Linked DNA regions of Homo sapiens: region 1 is linked to region 2. Evidence: fine-mapped expression QTL. Tissue or cell type: whole blood. Region 2 holds a variant in brackets; the other region holds the start of a gene. All regions are shown on one strand. Distances are from middle to middle.

What was found. PIP is the estimated chance that this variant, and not a neighbour inherited with it, causes the effect.
Region 1: it holds the start of CIRSR, and the variant in region 2 is fine-mapped to the expression of CIRSR in whole blood (TOPMed, PIP 0.98).

The regions. Positions count from the first base shown.
Region 1 is chr2:174,392,223-174,400,317 of GRCh38, forward strand. It overlaps CIRSR (corepressor of RBPJ and splicing regulator), which reads right to left and starts at 3,490. Exons shown (of 10, transcript NM_004882.4): 1 at 3,329-3,490. The coding sequence starts at 3,400. SCRN3 (secernin 3) reads left to right here and starts at 3,508. Exons shown (of 8, transcript NM_024583.5): 1 at 3,508-3,595; 2 at 6,053-6,220; 3 at 7,700-7,881. The coding sequence starts at 6,062. RefSeq lists a silencer at 1-2 and enhancers at 3,389-3,438, 3,936-4,436.
Region 2 is chr2:174,313,869-174,321,974 of GRCh38, forward strand. No RefSeq gene overlaps it. Among named protein-coding and RNA genes, the nearest start is that of LINC01305, 8.1 kb to the right of the region's middle. The variant T/C (reference allele first, on the strand shown) is at 4,929.

The DNA of each region.
Region 1 (8,095 bases), 78 kb after region 2:
CTGACCTCGGGTGATCCACCCACCTCAGCCACCCAAAGTGCAGAGATTACAGGTGTGAGCCACCATGCCCAGCGGGGGTTTCTTTTTGGGGTGATGACAAAGTTCTAAAATTGTTTGTGGTAATGATTACTTAACTCCATGAATACATTTTAAAAACCACTAAATTGTACATTTTACATGGGTGTTTGTATGATATGTAAATTTATCTCAGCAGAGCTGTTAAAATGAAAAATGACTATTCTGATGGCTGTGTAGTGAATGGATTTGAGAGGACTCAAGATTGGAGGCAGTAGAACCACTTAGGAAATGCAACAATATAGGTGAAAGATGATGAGGGTCTGAATTAAGACACAAGCAGCAGTGACAGAAAGGAAAGATGGATTCAAGAGATATTTGGAAGGTAAGACCAATAGCATTCAGTGATTGACTAGATAAAGGAGTGATGGGAAAAGGGATGAATCCTGAGCTTCTGGTTTGGGCAACAGGATGAGGGACTGTTTTACTATCTATATTTCTACCCATATGAGATAGCAAGTATAAAAAGGGCTGATTTGGGGTAAAAAACTTTTATATCAGATATGTTGAGTTTGAGGTGCCTATAGGACATCAAGATGCAAATGTCTAGTAGATAGCTGTCTTGAGCCACATCAAAGTTAAGAAGAGAAAACTGGGACTGCAGATTTGAGTCATGAGTAAACAGGCTAGTTAAAACAGGCTAGTTGGATGTGATTGCTTGGGGCAAGCATACTAAGTAAGCAAGAAGTGGGCCAAGGATGAAACTCTGGGGAACACTTATATTTTAGGAGCAGGCTAAGAATAAAGATCCAGTGAAGTTGATGGGAAAAGAACAGTCTAATAAGAGAGCTGGAAAACTAGAAGAGAGTAGTTATTACAGCTAAGGGAACAGAGAGTTTCACAAAAAAGGGAGTTTACAGTGATGCAATTGTCAATAGCCAGTTTATGAACTGTTTGCCAGTCCACAAGAAGACTAAAGAGCTTGGACCACAATGTAAATTAACTGCTTCCTTCATTAACAAAATCAAGAAAAAAAAAGAACAGCTGAACAAAACAGTGTATCCTGTGACATAAATGATTGAGGCAGCGCATAACAATACACAACAGAGTGACCAGCAGATATACAGCATTCACTCTTATTTTTGGTGAACAAATGAGACCTTAAAACCTACTGGACTTTTTATAAGCTTGGGAAACTGAAAACAAACAAGGAAAAAAAGAACCTACTGGACTTTAATAAACCCAACATGCCTAATTTTACAATTAGAATTTTCTTTCTTTCTTTTTAAATATAGATGGGGTCTCACTTTGTTGCCTATGCTGGTCTTGAATTCCTGGCCTCTCAAAGTGCTGGAATTATAGGTATGAGCCACCATACCTGGCCCTTAAAATTTTCATGGTGGAACTCTTTTGCACTCTTTGATCAAACTCCTTTGTTTCTTCCACTTCTATTAAAAAAAAAAAAAAACTTTACTGGAGTATGACATATAAAAAGCTGTACATATTTAATGTATACAACCTGAGTTTGGTGACAAGTATATCCCTGTGAAACCATCATCACAATCTACACTATAAACATATCCATCACCTCCAAAAGTTTCCTCCTACCCTAATAAATTTTTCTATTTATCTTCATTTAATATAGTTCCTTTATCCTTAGTTAATAAAGAATGCTAGAGGTCACCCCCTCTCCCCATAAAGTGTTAACTATCTAGAAAGGTCTGCTAATCAAAAACATTTCATTCTTCTCCTCTATCCTGGGAAAAGTATAAAACAGATCAAAGAGGCCAACAATATTTGGTACATTTTACATAACACTTTACACAGATGAGAAGAATGTAGGTTCTAAGCCTATAACTGCTTTACTGAATTTCTCATAGCGGACTTGCAAAAGTTATTCTCTGTGGATTTCTTTTTTCTTGTAAGAAAGCTGATACATTGAAATTTATAAAGCGAAATGTCAAAAGTTCCAGTAAAAAATTATGATTTCTCAGGTATATTTGTCTCTAAATATAAACAGCAAATAAGCAAGCACCTGAATTCCATCTAATCTCTTCATTCTTGTAAAAATAGTAACAGCTGACCCCCTAAGTATGCAGAGAAAGGAAATGTCTGTGTTTGGTGTCAAAAGTTATTGAGCCAACCAAATACAAGAAACCTCTCCCTCCCACAGTTGCAACCACACAAACACAAACTGGTGCAGTGGAAAAAAAATCACTGGGTTAATCAGGTGTTCCAGATCCTAGTTCTGGTACAACATTTAACTAGCTGTGTAACTCTTGGCAAATTTGTTTCCTCATTTATAAAATGAGGAGATGGGGCTGGATGATTACCAAAGAGCTTTCAAGGTGTATCTGTGTTATTAAAATTTCATGGGGGAGTTATTAAGAAAAAATGTTTAATAAGACTCCTTAGGAAGGTAACAGTGAAAAAAAAGTTGAGAATCACTGGTCTAGAAGTGAGAGTATATAGCAGTATCTCATCACCTCAACTCGTTCTAAAAACAAATAAAAGCTTAGTTATTTTCACAAGTTTCTATGTAGGGGCAATCAACATTTTATTGAGCACCTCCTCTCTGTAGTGGACACAGTGATAGATGCCTACGTTGTTTCAAATCCTTTATCTTCACTATTTCACTTAATCCTCACAATTAAGTCAATCATCCTTAATTTACAGATTAGAAGACTGAGGGTCAGATATTACAAATATTTTGTGCAAGGTCTTAAGGCTAAAAGTGACTGCTCGAATAACTAGAATCCAGGTTTGACTCCAAAGCTGATTCTTTCTACTTCACTCTTTTGCTTTTCATTACTATGATATTCACCAAAGTATTACAACTGGTAGACCTGTAATTATGTAAAACACTAAACTTCAACGAGTTTAGTCATCAAAAAGACACTAGATTATTAGGTAATTTTTTTAAAGATCTATCTTAAGTAAACGGGGAGGCTTCTTTGTACAGAAAAGTAGAGTTCAGAAGCCGTGATCCCTGGGATCCGAAAAGACAAAAAACCAGAATCAGCTGAAGGAAGTACTGAGGAATTTTGACATTAGTCTTCGCATATTATGGATTTGCATTCTGGCCGACAAAGATTCTCTAGGCCACCGGTCTCCTCGCTGTTGCAGAATAAACGCTGAGGACCCGCTGCGTCAGCGAGCTGCTCAGCAGAGAAAGGCGAGACCACCAGGGCTTTAGGCCTAGAGAAGCGGAGGCTGTCCTAGGGATCTCAGAGACACCATCACTTTCACTTCCAGCAGCCTCTGGGAAGGCGGTCCCTGTGGGCCTAATCCCTCCCCGGGTCTGTTTACTCACTTTTTTGATATTGGATTTGGAGGCAGGATGAAAGTCTTTCTTGCACATGAAGTTGGCGAAGGATTTCCCCATCTTGGAACTGGAACTAGGGAAAGCAGGGGCTAGATCTGTTAGCAACGTAAACAAACTCAGCCGCCTAACCGGAACTGCGTTTCCAGCAGCAAGGGGGAACTTCCGAGATCAAAGGTGACAGCTTCCGGCAACTGATGCCTCCACTGGCCACTCCTCCCTCCGTCCACCTGTCACTTCGGGTAGCTGGGAGGCCAGGTGAGGGGCGCGCACGGGGGAGGGGCGTGCATAGTTGAGACAGAAACCCGGAAGACCCAACTGTGGCGCGGCACTGCTTGACCGAGGGGCTCCGGAGCCCAGCTGCACCGGCTGCGGTTTGAGCGCCCAGGGCCGGGGTGCGGGGTGGACCGCGGCGGCCCTTCGACCAAAGGTGCTTGAAGCTCGAGCCCATTACTTTCTGTGGACTCTGACTCGAGCTGCAAAAGCTTTTCTGCACTGTTTTTCTCATCTATGTTATGAAGATAATAATTCCGGCCCTAACCGTAGTATGCTTGCGAGAATCCAACAATATGATGTTTCTGAAAGCGCCGGCTGAACTAAGAGCGCGTGAAATAGAATGACAGACAGCTCTGCAAGAACGGAGGCCCTGTCTATTTTGTACCCAGCTGTACGGTACTGGCGCCGAAAGACGTTCAATAAATACTTATTGAATGACGAATACGCGTTAGGAGTTGGTAAAATCTCTCAAGGCTTCACCTCCTCAGTGGGCTAGGTGCAATTCTAACCAGGGGGCAAGTTTCCTTAGCTTTCCCTACGACCCCAGTTAGGCAGCTCAGGTTACTATTGCAGCTTGATGGCCCTTGGGACTCCAGGTTTTTGAGTGGACGTGGCTGCTACTGCAGCAGGTGATCCACCAACCAAGTTCTCTATCAGGGTAATGTTAAGAATAAACCTTGGCCGGGCGCGGTAGCTCACGCCTGTAATCCCAGCACTTTGGGAGGCCAAGGTGGGTGGATCACCTGAGGTCAGGAGTTCAAGACCAGCCTGGCCAACATGGTGAAACCCCGTCTCTACTAAAAACACGAAAAATTAGCCGGGTGTGGTGGCACGCGCCTGTAATCCCAGCTACTCGGGAGGTTGAGGCAGGAGAATCACTTGAACGCGGGAGGCGGAGGTTGCAGTGAGCCAAGACTGCTCCATTGCACTCCAGCCCGGGCAACAAGAGTTAAACTCCATCAAAAAAAAAAAACAAAAAACGAATAAGCCTTTATGAGAAATTTTCTCTCCTACCAAATAATAACAATAACAGCTTTCATGTGAGTATCTACTATGTTCTATGCACTGTGCAAAACACTTTACGTGTTGCCTTATTAAGTTCTCATAACAGCCCATCAAATAGTGTCTTATTTTTCTGATGAGGCAGAAGGCATAGGTAAGAGAGAGATTAAATAGTCTGCCAAAGTTATATAGTGATAGAACTAACTATAAAACACAAATAGAAGGAGATCCAGGACATAAGAGTTGAAATACAGAAAGAAAATAACAGAAGCCATCAAGACATCAGACTTCTCGTCACTGAGGAGAAGAGGAAAACCCTTAAGAGTTTCAGTCTGAAGTTTTTATTTAGTCATTTTCTTTTCTTTTTAAGGAAACATTTATTATATTTAAATTTTGTTTTTAAGTTGCTAGCATCTGCCTGTGTAAAGCCATTTTAAGGTTTTGCCATTATTAAAGGAAAGAAGGAAACTCTGTAAAACAATGTGTCTGTTCTGGCAGCAAAATAAGGACCTTTAGGTGTTCTATTATAAGTGAAGATCTAAGATTTTCCAAGTTACAACTGAAGAGGTAATCTAGATATTAAAGTATATAATTGCGATTTATAAATTAAATATGTGAACTTTCTCCTAGAAATATCAGCAATTTGGAATTATATTGACATATTTTTGTCTGAATCAATGAGTCTGTTTCAAAATTTCAGTCTCATCAGAATTATAATGTGTATTATTTCCCAGCTCAAATAAGACCCCTTCTTCCTTCCTTTGAGGAAGTACTGGGCACGTAAGATTTTTTTCCATAAGACAAGTTCCAGCAAAGAGAATATAAAGATTAGTAAGACATACTCCCAGCCCTCAAGGATCTCATTGTCCAGTAAAGGGATTTATATATACACGAATGTAATGGAATCTAGCCTTTACAACAATAGAGCTAGGTACACGGATTCCCAAATATGGAAATGGTGAAACGAAATTCAGGGAAGACTTTAGGAGAGAAAGGTCTTAGAGAATAAATGTGAACTATACAGTAGAAGAAGGTAGTTCTCATTGCCATTTTCTTACTGAGTTGTAGTACCAGATTGAGTCCCAAGTCATATTCTTACTGATTTTTAGGCTGTAGTATACAAAATTTAAAACTTTAATGAACAGCCAAGCACGGTCACTCATGCCTGTAATCCCAGGGCTTTGGGAGGCAGAAGGGGGAGGATCTCCTGAGCCCAGGAGTTCCAGGCTGCAGTAAGCCCTGATCATACAACTGCACTCCAGCCTGGGTGAAAGAGCTAGACCTTGTCTCCAAAAAATAAAAATAAAAAAATCAAAGCTTTAATGAACATCCTTAATTAGATATGGCAATAATATCCTTTGGTCATTGAGTAAAACTCTTTATTTTTATATACTTAAAAGTGTTCTTTTTATTTTAAAACATCTGTATAATTTTTAGTTAAAAAAAATGGAACCTTTTTCCTGTGACACTTTCGTGGCATTACCTCCAGCAACAGTCGATAACAGGATTATTTTTGGAAAAAATTCAGATAGACTCTATGATGAAGTACAAGAGGTGGTTTATTTTCCTGCTGTAGTTCATGATAACCTGGGAGAACGTCTTAAGGTAGGTGAAATAAATGTTTTGTTAGCAATATGCCTTTTAAAAATATCATAAAGTTATTTCTATACATAGCAATTTGGAAGAAACTGTAGAAGTTAAAATTGAGGAGTTTACATTTGAAAAATAAATGAGTCAGAAATAAACTGTGATCTTTTATTTCAGTGATTCGGAGGACGTTGAAATAACAATAATAAAATTATCCATTGTTTGAATAAATATTTGAATGCTTTCCATATGCAAGCATGTTAGATAGGGCAAGAGATTTAAAGTCAGCTGTCAAGACTCTGTTCCAGGAGCTTAGAGTCTAGTATAGCAATAAGATGTGTATGCATTATACCCCATTATAAAATAGGATGGTTTAAATGCTAAATTTAAGTAACAGTAGCATGCTGTGGCAGCGGAAGAGAATGAACATTTAATTCAGCTTGGAGTTAGCTGGAATTTGATGGACAAAAAGGATTCTGATTCTGAATTGGCTTAGGTTCTACTTGATGTAGAATAGGAAAGTCATCCCAGACTTTAGGAATGACAGTTTTATGACACATCAAAAAAGGTTTATTAGGCCCTATGTTAACACTATCAATATACATTTTATGCAGTCACTTGGTAGTATACACATTAATTAAAGGATCCTTTAAAAACTTATTTTAAAAACCCATTTAATGTGGAACTTAAAATGAGAGCTTCAAATTATGCTATTGTTGCTAATTCATACTTTTTAGATTTTATTTTATTGATATTCTAATATTAAAACATATTAAATATTAGACTTTTTTCTGTATCCTATGCCATATTTTTTTCTTTTGCTAAGACCACTTATTCATCTGTGATACCACTTCCACTTTATTTCTTCATATTTAAATATAGCCTGTCCTGTAAACCAGTGGTTCTCATTCTTTTCATTGCTGTGGGCATACCTAATGGTTGACTTCAAAATGTGATGTGAGATTCCTATGACAAAACTCTTGTATTCGAAGGCTACCATGTGAGTAATTATATCACTAATCAAGAAACACTGGATATTGAGGTTGAGAACTACTTCCTTAAGCTTCAACTCACACATCTACAAAAATGTTTCAAGATATTACAGCTAGAGACCATCTTTCTCCTGAGCTCCAATAGCACCTTGTCTTCACTTCATGACCCTAATACTTTATACTTTATTTTATCTTAATGTAGAAGTTTTAGTTTCTCAAAAGTGAGATCTTTATCTGATTCATCTTTGTAACTAACATATCTCTTGGCAGAATGTTTTATAATAGGAAATGCTCAGCAAATATTTGAATGAATAAATATTTTAGGGTTATTCTGAATATGTTTTAAGGGTAATGCCTTTATTATTGAAAATTTCAATTTACTTATATTTCCTTTACCTCTTTCATAACAGTTTTGTCTTCTGACTGATTTTTTTAAATTCTGGATTTTGATAACTTTTCTGGTTTTGTGGTTCTTGCTATGACTTTTTTTTTTTTTTTTTTACAGTGTACATATATAGAAATTGATCAAGTTCCTGAAACATATGCTGTTGTCCTGAGTCGCCCAGCGTGGTTGTGGGGGGCAGAAATGGGAGCCAATGAGCATGGAGTTTGCATTGGGAATGAAGCTGTATGGGGAAGAGAAGAAGTTTGTGATGAAGAAGCACTATTAGGAATGGACCTTGTCAGGTTATTTTTTGTTACATTTTATACTACAGACCTTGTCTAAATTTATAATTTTTGTGTAACTCTTACTTGTTTTATTTTCCTATTTTTGAGGGGGCTTTGATACTTTGCAGTTTGTGTCAAAATGGTTTAAAGTACCGGCATGCAATTTCATGACTCTCAGTTTTGTTTGGTTTTTTAAAATTAATTAATTTTTATTTTTTTGAGATGAGATCTC
Region 2 (8,106 bases):
GCGTGAACCCGGGAGGCGATGCTTGCAGTGAGCCAAGATCGTACCACTGCACTCCAGCCTGGGCGACAGAGCGAGACTCCGTCTCAAAAAGAAAAAAAAGAAAAAGAAACATTTCAAACATATAAAAAATAATAGTACAGTAAATCCCATGTACTCATACCCCCAATTTAAAAAATAAATTTTTTTTTGAGACCAGATCTCATTCTGTCACCCAGGATGGGGTGCAGTGGCATGATCCCACAGCTCACTGCAGCCTCGACCTCCTGGGCTTAGCTGATCCTCCCACCCCAGGCTCCCAAGTAGCTGGGAACACAGGCATGCACCACCATGCCCAGCTAATTTTTGTATTTTTTATAGAGATGAGATTTTTGCCATGTTGCCCAGGTTGGTCTCGAACTCTTGGACTCGAGGGATCTGCCCATCTCGACCTCTGAAAGTGCGGGGATTACAGGTGTGAGCCACTGCCCCCAACCCCAAATTAGCAATTATCAAGATTTTGACTATATTTTTTTCATCTTCCCCCTTTTTTCTTTGTAGAAGTTTTTTGTTTCTGTTTTGTTTGGGGTTGTTTGTTTGTTTGTTTGTTTGAGAGAAGGTCTTGCTCTTTCACTCAGGCTGGAATATAGTGGCTTGAACACAGCTCACTGCAGTCTCAACCTCCAGGGCTCAAGCAATCCTTCCACCTCAGCCTCCCCAGTAGCTTGGACTGACTACAGGTGTGCCACCACGCCTGGTTAATTTTTAAATTTTTTGTGGAGACAGTGTCCCACTATGTTGCTCAGGCTGGTCTCGAACTCCAGGGCTCAAGAGAATCTCCTGCCTCAGCCTTCCAAAGTGCTGGGATTACAGGCATGAGCCATTGCACTTGGCCTGTAGACGTATTTTAAGAAAATGCCAAACATCATGTCATTTCACCCCTTTATCCTCAATATAAATCTTTAAAAAGTAAGGGCATTTTTCTAACACCACCACAATGCCACTTTCACCCTTAATAACATCAAAAATAATGTTTTGTCTCATTTAAATCTAATTCTTGAATTCTTGATGTTCATTTGGGTAGAATAAAGTTTAAAATCATTTTGCTATTTGGTCACACACTGACTAACCAAGGATCATATAAATTTGTTTCACAACAGTTTATTGGTTCCTAGATCATCTCTCCTTTCCTAAAAGACTTATTTTGTGTCAGGGAATATTATATGTTAGCTCCCCTTTTTCCTTAGTGCCTTAGTCCATTTGTGCTGCTATAACAGAATACCTGAGACTGGGGAATTTATAACAAACAGATATTTATTGTTCACAGTTGTGGAGGCTGAGAAGTCTGAGATCAAGGTGCCAGCAGTTTAGGCATCTAGTGAGGGTCCGGTCTCTGCCTCCAAGATGGTACCTTGAACTCTGCATCCTCCAGAGGAGGGGGAACACTGTTCCTCACGTAGCAGAAGAGCAGAAGAGAGAGAGCCCACTCCTGCAAGCTCTTTTTTTAAAGCAGCATTAATCCACACACAAGGGTAGAGCCCTCATGACTGAAATGCCTCCCATTCAGCCCCACCTCTCAACACTGTTGCAATGAGGATTAAGGTTCCAGCACATAAATTTGAGGGGAACAAAAACATTCAAACCATAGTATTTGGTTATAGAATTTTTAGCTAGAAACACAGCCACAGGAAAAAAAAACTGTATTTCCCAACCTTCCTTGCTGCTGGATATGGCTTCTGAGTAAATTCTAGTCCATGAGATGTTAACTGAATTGTTGAGTTGAGTTTCTGGGAAGTGTTTGTAAGGGTAGACGGCATGTTTTCTTTGCCCTTTCTCCTTCCTGCTCACTAGAATAGAGAAACAGTAGCTGGACCTGAAGCATCTTGACCTATGAGGCTGTGTACCAAGAAGAATAGGTAAGACATTAAGAGAGAAGCACTCAATGAGGATGCTAAGGCATAAAAATAATACAATGCACTTTGGAGACTCAGGGGAAAGAGTGGAAGGGGGGTGAGAAATAAAAGACTACATGTTGGGTACAGTGTACACCGCTTGGGTGATGGGTGCACCAAAATCTCAGAAATCACCACTAAAGAACTTATCTATGTAACCAAACACCACCTGTTCCCCCAAAACCTATTGAAATAAAAAATGATTTTTAAAAATCATAGATGACACAAGAAATGAGAAAAAAAGAGGGAGAGAAAAACACTCAGATCCCTGATGATCCACGGAGTCACCATATCAGTTTGGAAGTAAACTTTTTTCTGCACTTCAAGCCAATGTTCTGTATTTTGGTTTCTGATTGCTTTCAAACCTGTAGCCAAACAAACCCTAACTTATACACATTGCTCTATACTTCTTTCCCCATCGCTCAATTATGGTAGGACTAGACACAGAGAAAACTGGATTTGCTCTGAGCTAAGGCCTCCTCATCTAACATAACTGTTAACTGAGATGTATTCCATTAAACTTAATGTTTTTTTGTTTTTGGGTTTTGTTTTAGAGACAAGGTCTTGCTCTATCACTCAGGCTGGAGTGCAGTGGGGCTATCACAGCTCACTGTACTCTGAAATTCCCGGGCTCAAGTGATCCTCCCACCTCAGCCTCCTGGGTAGCTGGGACTACAGGCGCACACCACCATATCACCCTAATTTAAAAAAAATTCTTTTTTTTTTGGTGGAGATGGGATCTCACTACATAGCCCAAGCTGGTCGCGAACTCCTGGCCTCAAATGATTCTCTTGTGATTTGCTGGGATTACAGACATAAGCCATAGCACCCAGCCAAACTTAATGTTTTAAAATGAAAAATGTTCAACTTTCAAAACTCCTTTCCCTTAGGTCTGTCCTTGCTATATAATCAACATCTCCTCTGCCTTCTTAATTGATTGGCTACTCAAATATAGCAGTTTCTTGGTTTTTAAAAGTAGTGTTCTGGCCAGGTGCTGTAGCTCACGCCTGTAATCCTAGCACTTTAGAAGGCCGAGGCTGATCACTTGAGCCCAGGAGTTCGAGATCAGCCTGGGCAACATGGCAAAACCCCGACTCTAAAAAAAATTACAAAAATTAGCCGGGCATGGTGGTATGTGCCTGTAGTCCCAGCTACTTGGGAGGCTAAGGTGGGAGGGTCACTTGAGCCTGGGGAGGTTGAGGCTACAGTGGGCTGTGATCGCGCCACTGCACTCCAGTCTGAGTGACAGGATGAGACCTTGTCTCAAAAAAAAAAAAAAGAGTAATGTTTTGTTCATATGGTTTGCAAAAAAGGATTTGGAGAAGGCTAGAAAAGATCTGAAATACTGAATGAGTAACAATCACTGAATGCCGGAAAAAGCCCAGCCTTGTTACCTTCTCTGATCTCTGAAAATACATCAGCAATTGCAGAGCTGTTGCTGGTGAGCTACAGTGAGCTGTCACCATTGATGTAGTCATTATTAGAAGATCACAGTATATGCACAGAAGTTCAAATATTGTTAACAGGTCTACATTTAAAAGGTTTCTTATGTAATTTTACAGCTGATAAAGCAACCCCTGATGACACAGTGAAATAGGATCAGGATATTAAAGCATTTAAACATAGGTTTTTAATTTATTAACCAAACATTAGGACATTTCCTCAGTCTCTTTTCATATTTAAAAAAAGGAAAAGAGAAAAATACTTGCGGTAACAAAGAAAAGTCTTAAGGTTTCTTTCAAAGATGCAGGCTGATTTCCAATATTCCAAACCTTTGAATTACGTAATGAAATGGGAGCTAATAAAAAAGAATGCACACCTGACAGATTGAATATTTTTTCTATGATTAATAATTCTCTATTAAAGCAATCTATTAACTTTTATTTTAAAGAGATGTGAGTGATCGAGTTATTAGATCAGCACCCTCAATTTTGGGCCAAATGAGAAACTCCTGTAGATTTTGTAATTCTAGACACCTCGTGAGCTGCTGTTCATTTGCTGATGAGATGTTTAAAGAATTGCAATGCACTAAGTTGTACATGTAAGACCAAAATGTTAATCAAAACACTGCGGCCAGATATGGTGGCTTACACCTGTAATCCCAGCACTTTGGGAGGCCGAGGCAGGTGGATCACTTGAGGTCAGGAGTTCGAGACCAGCCTGGCCAACATGATGAAACCCTGCCTCTACTAAAAGTAGAAAAATTAGCCTGGTGTGGTGGTGTGCACCTGTAATCCCAGCTACTCGGGAGGCTAAGGCATGAGAATTGCTTGAACGTGGGATGTGGAGGTTGCAGTGAGCCAAGATCAAGCCACTGCACTCCAACCTGGGTGATGGAGTGAGACTCTGTCTCAAAAATAATAATAATAATAAAATAAAAATAAAAAAAAAACTGCAAATCTTACACTTTCAAGACATTTATGGAAAATAATTCCTAATAAAGAAGGCATAGGGGATATGTAAAATTCTTCTTTATATCTTAGTCTTTGAGGAAATACTTTAAATTTCAACCACCATAGACAGTGAAAAATAACTCTCAGATGCCTATTCTTTGCACTCTGTTAGATGCTCCCTTTATGTGTTCATATATGTTTTATTGCAGACTGTATTTTCCCAAAGTGGCTGAAACAGTATCTGCTATTCCAAGTGCTCTTTTTATAATGTGACCTTAACATTTGTCTTATGGATAAGTGGAGTTTATGTCTTTTCCCCTTAAACTTGGGCAAACACTTGCGACTGTCTCAATAAAAGAGTACTGGAGAGTGATGTTACATAAATTTTGAGTCTAGATCACAAAAATGCCATGTTTCATCTTGCTGTCTTAGGACACTCAATACAGGAATTCAGCTGTATGCTGTAAGGAAGCCCGCACTTACCCATGCAGAGACCACATGATAGGTGTCCTGGTTAAAACCCAGCATGCTGCTGGGTGCAGTGGCTCACGCCTGTAATCCCAGCACTTTGGGAGGCCAAGGCGGGCAGATTACCTGACGGTAGGAG[T/C]TTGAGACCAGCCTGGCTAACATGGTGAAACCTTGTTTCTACTAAAAATACAAAATTAGCCGGGCATGATGGTGCAAGCCTGTAACCCCAACTATTCGGGAGGCTGAGGCAGGAGACTCACTTGAACCTGGGAGGTGGAGGTTGCAGTGAGCCGAGATTGTGCCATTGTACGCCAGCTTGGGCAATAAGAGCGAAATTCCATCTAAAAAAAAAAAGCCGGCATCATCTGCCAGATAAGTGAGTGAAGTCATATCCAGGTGATTCCAGCCCCCAATCGTTGCATTACCCACAGCCTTTGAGTCTTCCTGACTGAGGTTTCAGATATGGTGGAGTGAAGACAATCATCCATACCCACTGTACCCAATCTGAATTCCTAACCCAGAGAATCTGTGAGCATAATAAAATGGTCATTTTATGCCACTAAGTTTTCAGGTAATTTGTTACACAATAATGGTAACTGGGACATATATGTTACCTACAAGCCATATTAATGACAATACTCTCAATTTCTTATAAATTTCCCCTGGATAAAACCATACAATAAGCCTCATGTATTTTCAAAGTAGTCTTCAAATGTGAAAGAAGAATAATAGCAAATGACCCTAAAGGGAACCAAGATATGAAAAAGTTACAATTCATATATTAATAGAATCACATGCCTTTTCATTGGCCAGAATTAAGACCTTTTGCCTTTCAGAATTAGCCTTTTCCTCAAAATCCATGTCCTCAAACAAATTAGTCCCACTTAGTTTTTTCTTCAAATTGTTATCTTTCTAAGTAGTCTCTTTCTTGAGTTCTAGATCCTTGACTCTCAGTCTGCTGAGCCTTTTTTTTTTTTTTTTTTTTTGAGATGGAGTGTTGCTCTGTTGCCCAGGCTGGAGTGCAGTGGCATGATCTTGGCTCACTGAAGCCTCTGCCTCCCAGGTTCAAGAAATTTTCCCACCTCAGCCTCCTGAGGAGCTGGGATTACAGGGGCGCACCACCATATCTGGCTAATTTTTGTATTTTTAGTAGAGACAGGGTTTCACCGTGTTGGCCAGACTGGTTTTGAACCCCTGACCTCAGGTGATCCACCTGCCTCGGCCTCCCAAAGTGCTGGGATTACAGGCGTGAACCACCACACCCGGCCGAGCTTTTCTGCTTAGACATTCCACCATTCTCTCAAACTTAGTTGGTCTCAAACCAAACCCATGTCTTCTTTGAAAATCTGAATCTTCTGAGAGAGTAACAAAGCAAATGATGCAAAATGTTAAAACCTGGCGAATCTCCTAAAAGATAAACAGGAATGTTTCTTTGTAAGATTCTAGCAACTTTTCTGTAAGCTTCTAATTATATTTCAAAATAAGGAGCATGTTAAAACAGAAAAGAAAAGGGATAAGGACTGGAAACAAGAACTGAATTTACTACACAGCTCTCTAATTCTGGTAGTAATGTCTGTTGTTACTGGTGGTTAAATACTTCAGAGTAATCTTTCATTCCAGATTTCCTCAGCTCTTCTAATTAATCAATATTAATTTGTCTTTCTTTTTTGCTATCTGTAGTTAATATTTCTATTTCTCTCTTCCCAAAACCCAGCACCCCTTCTTATGCTAAAAGTGTCAAGATTTTCCTCTGGAGAGCCATTCTTCCCCAGTTTTAGATCTTACATAAGGGTGGGATTCAAGAATGAAAATGTAACCCAGGTATAGCATCTTGCAGATGGTCAACAAAGGAGGAGCAAATTCCTTTAATAAAGTTTAAGTAGTTAAGAAAAAGTCCTAACAGATCTTGCTGGTTTTGCTCTCTTTTACATTTTGCTTTAAAAAATGTGCTTATTAGGACTTTATATAATATGTATGTATGTGTATATATATATGTGTGTGTGTGTATACACACACACATAAACACAGAGACAGGGAGAGAGAGTTAGTGCGGGGTGAGTTTAGTATAGAAAAATTACATTTTCTGCAAAAAGAGTTGATTCTCTTTCTGTTTTTTTAGTTCTTGCCTTGGTCAAAATATAATTCCTCAAGTCAAAATATTATACTTAGGTAGGTAGGGCAATCTAAAATAAAATCCCAAGGATGAGAACCTTCATTCTTTCAAACTTTGTTGAACTGTTATATTGAAAGAATAACCTCCTGTTTTGGATTTTGGCTTCTTTTGGTCCTCTGCAGAATGACTAAGTAAATGAGCCCCAGAAGGCCCATGAAAGGCAGTCTCTTACTAACAGGGGCAGAACCACCCCATACTTCTTTTGCCATCTATTGACTTACCCACACTATAGCTCCAGGTCTTAAAACCTTCTATTCAAGAGAAAGGATATGGATATTTTTATAAAATCAGTTTGTGTGTGTGTTTTTAAGAAAAGAAACCTAGAGCTATCTGCATTACAAGCATGACTGAGAAGGGGATTTTGTTCAGAGGGAAGTAAATATTTTCACCAACATTCAGAGTCTAGTTGCTCCCAGAAGTCCTAATGTATATCTTTTTTTCCTTGCTGAGTCTTACCTACTTCACCTCCTTAAAATGCCAACCCATGAGCTGGGTGCATTGGCTCATGCCTGTAATCCCAGCACTTTGGGAGACCAAGGCAGGCAGATCACGAAGTCAGGAGTTCGAGGCCAGCCTGACCAACATGGTGAAACCCCGTCTCTACTAAAAATACAAAAATTAGCTGGGCGTGGTGGCACGTGCCTGTAATCCCAGCTACTCAGGAGGCTGAGGCAGGAGAATCACTTGAACCCGGGAGGCAGAGGTTGCAATGAGCCAAGATCGCACCATTGTACTCCAGTGCTCCAGCCTGGGCAAAAGAGAAAGACTTTGTCTCAAAAAAAAAAAAAAAAAAGCCAACCCATGGTTTATCAAATCTACAAAACTCAATGCAATGTGCATCACCCCCTTTCTTCTTCCTTTTTCTCATTAACTAGCATCATTGCCCTCTTTGGCAACTGCACAGTTACTAGGTATTGCCAGAAAGATTCTATAATAGACTATTGGCTCTTCTGCTCACTTTTTCCTCCTGCTAAGTTTTTTTTTTTTTTTTTTGAGTTGGAGTCTCGGTCTGTTGCCCAGGCTGGAGTGCAGTGGCATGATCTCGGCTCACTGCAGCCTCTGTCTCCCAGGTTCAAGCAATTCGCCCACCTCAGCCTCCCGAGTAGCTGGAATTACAGGTGTGCGCCACCACACCTGGCTAATT